Linked DNA regions of Homo sapiens: region 1 is linked to region 2. The links come from fine-mapping of genetic effects on gene expression. Tissue or cell type: whole blood. Region 2 holds a variant in brackets; the other region holds the start of a gene. All regions are shown on one strand. Distances are between the middles of the regions.

Region 1 (2,757 bases), 43 kb before region 2:
TTAATTTGCCCATTGCTGGGAAATACTTGTTACCTGTCATAATGTAGTGCTTCAAAATAACGTTATCAGAACTGCAGTCGAAAGGTACTCAATACCAGTTAAGTAACATTTGAAGTCCAGGAAAGAGAAGTCAAGAATTCCATGATTCCATGTTTCCGTATTCATCAGGAACATAATTAAGAGTTTATTCATTTGAGACTTACAAGCAAACAAAAAAAGTTTATGTAGTTTGCAAGGAAGTTAATATTCTGATTTTATTCTTCGAAATGTACATATAAATAGTTCTCAAGTTTGATTTTATGATAAAAGTGTAGTTTGGGAAAAGGTCATTCTAACTTTAAAAAGGTCGCGAAAACAATAGAGGCTGAAGCATTGTTAGCGTAATTGGGGGAGGAGGGAGCAACGGCAAGAATTAAGAGCAGAACACAGGTCTAGAAACAGTACCTGTCCCAAAGTGGGTCTGCCCGGCGCTGTCGCTTTAAGCAGCGCTCCTGGAAACCTCATCTACAAATCCTGGGGCGGGTCAGGGGTGGCAAGACTCCTAAGGAGGGAAACGACAGAAATGATTCTGTTCTTGCGAGCCCCAAAGCAAGAGTACTTTTCTGATGGGTAAAGTGGTATTTCTTTCCAGGCTGCAAAGCTCTCCACCTTTTTCCTTTGGTCTCAGTCAGCCCCAGCCATGGGGGCAAATCAAGTTGGGGTCAACTCGGCTGCCAGAGACCTAAGTTGCCACAAGGGTCACCGACGACCTAAGCAGCAAGTTTCCTTCGTCCAGCCTCCTGCCCCCACGCACATTGCCTCCACAGCAAACTCCACCTGACTCAGCTTGTTTAACTCCAATCCTGCAGCCCTCCCGGCCTCAGCAGGGTCAGGGGGCGCGGGTCTGCGCCAAGACGGTTAGGAGGCCCAAGTCCTGGGACTGGACGGTTACTGCGCTCCCTTGGGCGCAGCCGCTGGCGGCGTGGGCGCGGCTGGGTCACGCCTCCGGCACCACCGCGCGCCAGCCCGCCCGTGGCATGGGAACCTGCGATTCAGTCGTCCCCGGGGACCTCCCAGCGCACACCGCTAGCCTGGGGCTTTCACCTCGATCCGCCCGGCCTGGGCGGCTCGTGTCCTCCCACACCGCCACCCGTGCCCGCTTCCCGGGGTGCGCCCGGAGCCTGGCCGCTCTCCCTGCAGGTGACCAGTACTCGTTTGGAGTTCAAGATTCCCGCCGCTCCACTTGAACTCCACCCTCCCCTCTTATTATTATTATTATTTTAACTTCCCTCCGGTTAAGCTAAATTGATCTTAATCTTTCATCTCGGACGTCCCTCTAAGGGGAGTGAGCGAAGATTCCGATTGCAAGTCGCCGCTGTCGCTTGTGCCCGTCAGCCCCTCGCCCAAAGGAGACGCCCCCGGGCGGGGCGGGGCGGAGCGGGGCGGGGCGGAAGGGCCCGGGTCTGCTGCGGACGGGGCGGGGCGGAGCCTCCTCCTGCACGGGGGAGCCCCCGGGCTCGCCCCAGCTCAGACACTCCTAGCCTTGGGGCAGCTGCCGGGCGAGTCAGCGGAGTAGCGGCCAGCGGGCGATGGAGACAGAGAGACACCCGACGAGAGGAGGCGGGGTGGGGGAGGCGGGGAGAGTGCGGGGGCGGAGGCTGGCAGGGGGCGCTGGAAGCTGGAGCGGTCCGTGCGCTCCCCGCGCCCGAGGGTGCAGGAGGCTCTGAAGCGGCTGCTGCACCGCGGGGCCCAGGCGGCGGCTGGGGGGCTGGGGGGCGCTGCCGCCGCCGCCGCCGGGGGCGTCGCTGGCCTCGGCCCCTTTGTTCTCGCGCGCTCCCCCTCGCCGCCCACTCCCCTGCTGTCGCGCGGCGGCGGCGGTGGCGGCGGCGGCTCCTCCCGCCCGAGGCAGTCGGGCTCGGCGCCGGGGGCGGGAGGGGGCGGGGGGAGCACGCCAGCCGCCGAGAGTGGGGGGCGATGGCGAAGCTCCGGGTGGCTTACGAGTACACGGAAGCCGAGGACAAGAGCATCCGGCTCGGCTTGTTTCTCATCATCTCCGGCGTCGTGTCGCTCTTCATCTTCGGCTTCTGCTGGCTGAGTCCCGCGCTGCAGGATCTGCAAGCCACGGAGGCCAATTGCACGGTGCTGTCGGTGCAGCAGATCGGCGAGGTGTTCGAGTGCACCTTCACCTGTGGCGCCGACTGCAGGGGCACCTCGCAGTACCCCTGCGTCCAGGTCTACGTGAACAACTCTGAGTCCAACTCTAGGGCGCTGCTGCACAGCGACGAGCACCAGCTCCTGACCAACCCCAAGGTAAGAACGCCCCGCGCACCCAGGGGCTCCCCGCGAGGGAGGTTTGGAGGCAGCGTCGGTGTTAGACTCCGCGCGGGGAGGGTTCGGCGTGTGCTCGCATTGCTAGGAGGAGACCAGGTGGCGCAGGCTGTGCTCAAACCAGGAATGACTACATCAGGGAGCCCCAGGGCTCCGGTCTTTTCAGGTGGGTTTACGCGCGGCGACCAGTGGTGCCCAGAGGCTTACTTTAAAACCTGTCTTGCCTGGTCTCAGATTTTGAGGCCTCGACCCAGTCCGGGTCCTGCGCCTACCGGACTGGGTTTGGAGAAGTGCAAGGAGCCAAGAAAGTTAACTTTTCCTCCATTTAAAGCCAGTGGTTAGCGGGGATCCACCTACTCCAGCTCACGGTCAAGGTCCGAGCTTCAGCTGGTCTCATCTAGAACTCAGATGGAATGACCTTCCTTGAAAGGTCGAGGGGACTCTCGAAAG
Region 2 (2,757 bases):
CACCCCGACTACTCAGGAAATTACAAGGGTTTTACAAGTTCTGTGCCAGGAACCGGGGCAGAGACCAAATACAAATTTCTTATTATGTCACCTATAGCAGTTGTGTTAACTTCAGTACAGTAAATTTAAGCTCATTATACCTCCTTCAGAACGGATACACATTCCCTATCCATCATCTCACTGTCCCATTCCCAAACGGTGGGGGTGTAGATAGAAGCGGGGGTGGTCTATCACAGCCCAGCAGCACTCAAGACAGGATTTTTCAGCGACTCTGGGAAGGCAGGCGTTCGGAGTTTGGCTCTTTTACCATGACATATGTGAGAGGAAACAGGAGTGCTGTTTGGAGGTGTGAAAAATGGCAGCTCCCTGGTGCCATCTACTCTTAGTACACTTTTTACTACTGCTAAATATGAAATTAAAATAGACTTACTGTAGGGACTCCCAGATGCTCTTGAAAAGATGAACTTTATATTTAAAGAAACCTTTCGATTTCGCTCAAATGCAGGAAATTAGGGAGAATAGTCCAGTTTTGACTTTCAAGAAAAGGGTGTTATTTTAAAAATCTAAGACAAAGATTAGAGGAGTCTTAGCTTTCCACTGGTTAAGTCCTGTTGAGGCAAGCTGTATTCCAGTGTTGAGTCTGCAGCGGCCGAAGCAGCCCCGAAGCAGCTGTGCCTGCCGTGGGCAGTCAGTCTCGGTGCGGCCATCCCTCTCTACACCCAGGAAGGATTCTGCAGAGGCGTCACTGGGGTGAATTCATGCCAAGGGTTGAGTCCATTTGTGGCCCTCCCATATAACCTTTCCACTCTTTGCCTCCCTTAACCTCGAGGCTCAGTCTCCTTCCAAAATGTGTAGATTTTGTTTTTACACTTTTTTATTCAGGTAAGTTCACAATTCTCCCTATATCATGTTTTCATTTTTTTTCTCAGTCTTTCCCTGGCTTATTCCTTCTCAGCAAAACCTAACTTATACCCCCTTAACGAGTATACTTTGAAACCCCCTTTTCATTGCCAGAAAACTTCTCTGTATTCTCAATCTTTTCATACAATTTCCTTTCTTCATCTTTGCCTTAACTGGCTTCTCCTTGAAGAGGGCTTGTCCCTTTGAAAATAACTATTCATTCTTCAATTCCCTTTGGATCTAAAGGCCAAAAGGAGTGATCAGTCTTTTTATCTTTTCCTCTTGTTGGAGAGCATAGAGTTTTTCTATACAGGTTTACTTTTTAGTACTTTGTTTTATACCTCTGGATAGTAGGTCACAGAGTACACGGAGCAGGCTTACACAAACACACACGTCAAATGAACAAATCCAGCCACACCACCTGTGCAGTCTCTTGAATTCACTTCCTCCACCACTGCCTGGATTCAGGCTCTCACCTGGCTTGTTGAAGGCATCCTCAACTAGTCTGTCAGCCTTGGTCTTTCTCTTGTCTGTCATCCACACCACGCTAGGTTTTGTTTTGCTTTGTTTAAGCCTCCTTTTGATCTTGTCACAGTCCTTGATTAAATTTTTCTGCCTTCTTCTTATCTATAGGATAAAGGCCATGCTCTTCCAATTCCAACTT[A/C]AACTTCTGCCATTGAATTATGTGCCAGTCAAGGAAAACCAAAGACAAAACAACAAGAAAACAACAACAAAATAGCAGACACGGTCCTTGCCTTCATGGAGCCTATAGTCTGTAGTCACAACAGTAGTATAATTACAAAGTAGGGTAGTGCTATGAAGGGGAAGCTGAGGATGCTGCTATGAGATATTACGGCATGATGGGGAATTTCAAAGACCTTTCTGTGTAAATTAAAATTAGGTCAAGACCAGAGGATGTTCAAGAATTAGCTAGGTAAAAAGCTAGGGGGAGAATATTTCAGAATGAGATACTACCATGTGCCAATGTTCTGCAGCAAAAAAGAGCTTGGTGGTTTTAGGTACTGGAAGGCCAGTGTGTCAGGAGAACTGTGAATGAGTGGGAGAGTGGAGCAAGAACTATACAGGGCTTAGATTTCTCTTAAAATGTAGTGAGCAGCCAGTCGTTGGTTTTAAGCAGAGTGGTAATATGGTCTGCTTTACATATTTTAACTTTTATTCCAGCTGCATCAGTCACCTCGAGTCATTCTGTTTCCCATACACCTTGATGCCTTTGCTCCTGTCTCTTTCTCCTCACCTGGGGACACCTTCACCTTTTTTACTTCTGGGAATTAGCACAGCACAGTAGTCCTAGAATGAACTCTAGAACCAAACGCTTTCTAGTGGCGTGGTCTTAGATATGTTACTTAAATCTATCTGTGCCTCAGTTTCCTTTGCAGAAGTGGGATATAATATCAAGGAGATGGCATGTGCCTAACCCACAATAATTCCTACAAAAGTGTTTGCTATTATTGTTTTTATTACTATTATTAAGATTCACCTCAAATGTTACTGTGTAACCTTCTCCCACCTTTTCAGGTATAATTCATTACTTCCTCTTCTGCAGTCCCACACTGCCATGGTTGCTTTTATCACACTGTTAAGAGAGTTGAATATGTACTTTTTTGTTGTTATAGATTATGAATTCCTTAAGGGCAGCAGTCATGTGACATCAAGCATCGGGATTTACATTTCTCCTCTATCACTGATTAATTGTACGACCTTGGATAAATTGTGCAGCTTCTCCATCTTGGTTTCCTCGCCTGTAAAATGAGGATAGCATTACCCATCTTAAGAGCTTCTGTTTTGGTTTTGTAAGAAACACATTTGCACCATAGCTAATACTTAGTAAACACATAT

The links. PIP is the estimated chance that this variant, and not a neighbour inherited with it, causes the effect.
Region 1: it holds the start of KCNMB4, and the variant in region 2 is fine-mapped to the expression of KCNMB4 in whole blood (TOPMed, PIP above 0.99). The same link has a PIP of 0.9 or more in blood mononuclear cells.

What each region holds. Positions count from the first base shown.
Region 1 is chr12:70,364,782-70,367,538 of GRCh38, forward strand. It overlaps KCNMB4 (potassium calcium-activated channel subfamily M regulatory beta subunit 4), which reads left to right and starts at 1,509. Exons shown (of 3, transcript NM_014505.6): 1 at 1,509-2,289. The coding sequence starts at 1,954. RefSeq lists a silencer at 1,325-1,564.
Region 2 is chr12:70,407,910-70,410,666 of GRCh38, forward strand. The region is part of intron 2 of KCNMB4 (potassium calcium-activated channel subfamily M regulatory beta subunit 4); the gene reads left to right. Among named protein-coding and RNA genes, the nearest start is that of KCNMB4, 43 kb to the left of the region's middle. The variant A/C (reference allele first, on the strand shown) is at 1,565.